Regions from separate parts of the Homo sapiens genome. Here region 1 is linked to region 2. Evidence: fine-mapped expression QTL. Tissue or cell type: whole blood. Region 2 holds a variant in brackets; the other region holds the start of a gene. All regions are shown on one strand. Distances are between the middles of the regions.

The links. PIP is the estimated chance that this variant, and not a neighbour inherited with it, causes the effect.
Region 1: LINC00847 starts here. The variant in region 2 is fine-mapped to the expression of LINC00847 in whole blood (INTERVAL, PIP above 0.99).

The regions. Positions count from the first base shown.
Region 1 is chr5:180,829,648-180,832,298 of GRCh38, forward strand. LINC00847 (long intergenic non-protein coding RNA 847) reads left to right here and starts at 1,310. Exons shown (of 3, transcript NR_045679.1): 1 at 1,310-1,582. It overlaps HEIH (hepatocellular carcinoma up-regulated EZH2-associated long non-coding RNA), which reads right to left and starts at 1,971. Exons shown (of 1, transcript NR_045680.1): 1 at 307-1,971. It also overlaps a transcript of ZFP62 not described here. RefSeq lists silencers at 1,536-1,585, 1,946-2,075, 2,516-2,651.
Region 2 is chr5:180,855,600-180,858,439 of GRCh38, forward strand. The region is part of intron 1 of ZFP62 (ZFP62 zinc finger protein); the gene reads right to left. Among named protein-coding and RNA genes, the nearest start is that of ZFP62, 4.3 kb to the right of the region's middle. The variant C/A (reference allele first, on the strand shown) is at 1,575.

The sequences.
Region 1 (2,651 bases), 26 kb before region 2:
TAAGTTTCTCTGCTTTAAAAAAGAAACTTTGAAGACCATTTTACAGAAGAATTGGTTTGCCAAGGTGGAAAGAGAAGCTCATCAGTGACGTGACTTAGCCAAAAGCACTGGTTATACCTCTATACCTCGGAGCCGACACTGAAAGCCCCGGCCATAGTCTTTCTGCCCCAAGGAAAGCCTGGGGTGGGGGTGGGTGATATTGTCAAGAGCCAGGCCCCAGCTCCTCATACACACAGCTCATTTGCTCTCCCTCCCAACCCCCACCTTCATACTTCTTCCACACGCATACCAAAGAAAATAAGAATCTCAAGGTTGGAAAATCCCACTTTACTTCAAGTGAAGTCACTGGGTTGTCCCCATGAAATATCTCCACAATGGGTGTGCTAGACCTTTACTCTCTGTGGCACCACCAAGACCCCCTCACCCTGCCAGAGCCCTCTGAAGTGTACTCAGAATGGAGGGGCTGGAAGTGGGGCCAGTGGTCCTGGTAGTCAGCCTCCCCTTCTGACACAAGAATTATCGTGGAACAGCTTGTGTGACCGATCAACTGGTCTCTCCATCTTTAAGCCATTGTCTTGTTGACTCTGTTACTGCAGAGTTTGGGGAGGTCTCATGGCTTCTCGCATCCTATTTCCTGAGCTTCCCTGAAGCCAACTTCTGGCCACTGGTATGTGATGCGAGCACAGTGCCTCCTCCTGCTCCTCCAGGAAGCTTCTGCTGATTGAACGCAGGCCAGATGGCGAGATCCGGAGCAACCTTCTTAGATCAAGGGAAGAAAGGGGCACAAGAGGGGAGTAGGTAACAAGATAAAAGGAGCTCCCTCCCTGATGACTACAGAGCCATCGTGGCAGCCCTGGGCCTCCATTTCAGACGTTCATCTTGCCTAAGCCACCACCATCAGGGTCTCAGTCAGTCATCATTCTCATTTACTCGGGTGGCTGGGTGAGGGCGGAATACTACCTTCCAGCTGTCTGAGATTAAGCCTAAGCCACCACCATCAGGGTCTCAGTCAGTCATCATTCTCATTTACTCGGGTGGCTGGGCGAGGGCGGAATACTACCTTCCAGCTGTCTGAGATTAAGCAGAACAGCAGCTAAAGCAGTAACAGCAGGTCTCCTTCAGCAGCTTGCCACAGGGAAGAGGGTCCCGCGTGAACCGAACTCAACTTCCACCTGCGCAGAGGTAGCTACCATTTGCGTAGAGGTAGCTGGGTCTTTAAGGTTAGAGGGAAGGCGCAGGGAGGGAGAGACGGCGGGTGGGGGTTGAACAAAGTGGAGATTCACAAAAGCAGACTAGGGCGGGCGACGTGATCAGATGACCTGTGCGGGCGGCAGCCTCCTGCCCTCCTCCCCTTCGTGCGCCGGCTGGAGCGAAGAGTTCTTTTGACAGCCGTGAGCTTCCCCGCCAGGAACTTACTGGGGCTGCATCACCCTAGAAACGTGGCTTTGGGCTGTGGAAACGCTGCCTCTGTGGAAGTCTCTCCTCGCGGGGGTGGACGGGTCGCTGCGCGCCCAGCGTTCTTCTGCGGTTCTCACAGCCCGCCGCCGCCGCCGCCTCGGGGACCTTTGCGGGGAGGCCTCAGGTCAGCGCCGCCCTTGCGATGGCGGGAGAGCAGAGCGGCCCCAGGGCCTCTGAGCTCCGGCCCCGGCACGTCCCGCCCTCTCCTCCGCTTGCGGGAGCCGGGGCGCCTCGGAGGGAAACCTTCCGGACACAGGCCGGGAGAAGAGGGGCCGTGGCGCCATCGCGCAGCTTCCTGGTTTCGGCCATGTTTTTTTTTTTTTGAGACGGAGTTTCGCTCTTTTTGCCCAGGCTGGAGGGCAATGGCGCCGTCTCGGCTCCCTGCAGCCGCCGCCTCCCGGGTTGAAGGGACTCTCCGGCCTCAGGCCGCGGTGTTCTTGTAAATTAGAACCGGCCTATGCGCCAAGCGCGGGTCTCGCGGCTGCGGAGAGAGGCCCAGCAGGGGGCGGGGACGCCGGGAGGCGGGGCCTGGCCGAGCTGCGCACACCCGGGTGGTTCTGGCTACGGGTACCCGGACCTGCCCAACGACCGTTCTCCATTCCCGACCTCCGCACCCTACCCGGTCCGCAGGGCACCTTCCTCCTCTCTCTCAGGCACGTCCTCGACCTCAGTTGCCACGTGCACATGCTGGTGCCTTCCAGGTCGGTCTTTCTCCACCAGACTCCACCTGGAACTTTCTTCCTTTTCGTCCTGTGCTGGCCTAACCCCTGCTCGGCCTCGGCCCTCAGCTGCCGGCTCTAACAAAGCCTCTGTCTTTCCCAGACCCCTGTGACCAGGTCAGGCTCTGCTCCCTGCGTTCCTCTCTCCTTGCTTCCCTCCTCCTCCCCTCCCCAGAATCGCTTGAACCTGGGAGGCAGACGTTGCAGTGAGCTGAGATCGCACCATTGCACTCCAGCCTGGGTGACAAGAGCGAGACTCCATCTCAAAACAAAAAACAAAAAACACAACTCTTGCTGGCTCCTTGATTTTAGCCCAGTGAGATTCACTTCTAATTTCTTTTTTTCTTTGAGACAGTCTGTTCTGTCACCCAGGCTGGAGTGCAGTGGCGTAATCATGGCTCACTGCAGCCTCAACCTTCCTGGACTCAAGTGAACCTTCCACCTCAGCCTCCCAGGTAGCCGGGACTACAGGGG
Region 2 (2,840 bases):
CCCTCTCAATTACAGAGCCTCATATCCACCTTGCCACCCACACTTTTGCCTAAATCAGAAATGGGCTACTTCCCTTGGCCACATCCAAAACAGCCCCTAGGACCGCTGATTCTATTGCCTAAGTAGTTCTGAAGCTCCCACCCCATCCCCCACCTCCTTCTTACTGCTAAGGCCTTAGTTTGAGCCTTCTAAATTCTCTTCTGCATGACTGCCATCGTTTCTAGACCTTCACTCTTATCCCTGCCCAATTCTTTCTCCAACCACTGTGAAGAATTTTTGTAAAATGCACACCTAGTCACTGGGCAGTGCCAAGTTCTCCCAGGCTACTTACTGTGGCACCTAAAGCCTTCTGCACCAGCCGCCTGTGCAACTGTCAACCCTCACTGCCACTCCACTCACTGATTCTCAGCCTGATCTGTCCTCCTTTGTTTCTTTGACAAGTGGATTATTCGTTTTCTTCCTGTCCTCTGGGATTCCATGTTAGACTGGCTGCTGACTGGCCTGGTCTGCCTAAAATCACAGACACTTTGCCACTTACCTCTCTAACCTAGGTGAAGGCCAGGGGCCTCCCTGTTCTGGCTCTGCTTAAACCCCTCTGTTTGGGTTGGGGCGCATGATGTCCCGTCACCTGATGTAGTTCATCCAATCCTCTTCTTGAGTGAAATCAAAATGGATTAACATAAACATGCATCTTCAATGAAAATAGATGGCTTGAAATGAAATCTATGTTAATCAATACTAAGATCCATCAAAAACACAGGCAGAAAAGCACCAAGACAGCACTAGAGTAAATGCTGCTAAAACATAAAGACAATACAAAGAATGTAACACATAAGGATAATTAAGTTATCCTTATAAACAATACTGGAGATGCATTCTAGGGTATCAGTTATTTCTGAGGCTAAGTGTTGCCCAAGGAACTTAAGACTATTGTCTGCATCCTGTTTGTTTTCCAGGCCCCGGGCTATTCCTATCCAAAGACATGGATATGACAAGGCCCTGCCATCAAGGTGCCTGCAGACTAGTAGGAGAGTCTGGTAGGAAAATAACCATATGATAAAAATGACAGAGGCGGCCGGGCATGGTGGTTCACGCCTGTAATCCCAGCACTTTGGGAGGCTGAGGCGGGCAGATCATGAGATCAGGAGATCGAGACCATCCTGGCTAACACCGTGAAACCCCATCTCTACTAAAAATACAAAAAAATGGCCGGGCATGGTGGTGGGCGCCTGTAGCTCCAGCTACTAGGGAGGCTGAGGCAGGAGAATGGCATGAACCTGGGAGGCGAGCCTGCAGTGAGCTGAGATCGTGCCACTGCACTCCAGCCTGGGTGACAGAGCAAGACTATGTCTCAAAAAAAAAAAAAAAAAAAAAAAAAAGCAAATACAGGACATGGAGGGTGGGAAAGGGGGGATGGACTACAGGAATAGCTTCAGGAAGAGAAGAGTGCCAAGGGAAGAGCAGGTACAGAGGAACTGGTGTTCACCCCCCGAAGACATCTGGGGCAGGCAAAGGGAAAATCAGACAGGTAGGCAAAGACAAGGGCTGCAACCATAAGGAGTCCAGACTTGATC[C/A]TCGGGAGCTTCGGGCAAAGGAGTAGCAAACTTGGATATGCGTTTTGGAAAAATTACTTATTTTATTAAACTGGAGTTGGCAAACATTTTCTGTAAGAACCAGGTAGCATATATTTTAGGCTTTGTGGGCCACACAGAACTGCTGAGTACTATTTTTGTTTAAGCATTCCTTTAAAAGTGTAAAAATCATTCTTAGTTTGTAGGCCATACAAAAACAGTCCACAAGCCCAGCAGTGTGCCCACCTCTGTTAGATAATATCAAGGAATCAGAGCTAATTTAGGCTGGTATAATAACGGCATTGTGGCTATGTTAGAACTTTTGTTTTTTTTTTGTTGTTTTTTTGAGACTGAGTCTTGCTCTGTTGCCCAGGCTGGAGTGCAATGGCACGTCTCAGCACACTGCAGCCTCCACCACCCAGGTTCAAGCGATTCTCCTGCCTCAGCCTCCCGAGTAGCTGGGATTACAGGTATGTGCCACCATGCTCAGCTAATTTTTATATTTTTAGTAGAGATGGGGTTTTGCCATGTTGGCAGGCCTGTCTCCAACGCCTGACCTCAGGGGATCCACCCGTCTCAGCCTCCCAAAGTGCTGGGATTACAGGCGTGAACCACCGCACCCAGACCTTTTTTTTTTTTTTTTAAATTCAGACTGAAGTCTGCAGTGAAATGGCATGGAATCTGGAATTTAAAATATTTCAATCAGGAAAAACTAAAAAGGGAAAAGTTAAACAGCAGAATCCTGATAATTGCTGAATCCAAGTGATGGGTATATGGAAGTTCATAAGAAAAAAACTTTAGGCCGGGTACAGTGGCTCACGCCTATAAGCCCAGCTCTTTCGGAGGCCGAGGCAGGTGGGTCACCTGAGGTCAGGAGTTTGAGACCAGCCTGGCCAACATGGTGAAACCCCATCTCTACTAAAAAAAAAAAAAAAAATTAGCTGGGCATGGTGGTGGGCACCTGTAATCCCAGCTACTTGGGAGGCTGAAGCAGGAGAATTGCCTGAATCCAGAAGGTGGAGGTTGCAGTAAGCTGAGATTGTGCCATTGCACTTCAGCCTGGGCAAGAAGAGTGAAACTCTGTCTCAAAAAAAAAAAAAAAAAAAAAGAAAAAAAGAAAAGAAAAAAAAGAAAAATATTTTAAAAAGATCAGGCAAGGTGCAGTGGTTCATGCCTGTAATCTCAGCACATTGGGAGGCTGAGGCAGACAGATCACTTGAGGCTAGGAGTTCAAAACCAGCCTGGCCAATGAGGTGAATCCATCTCTAC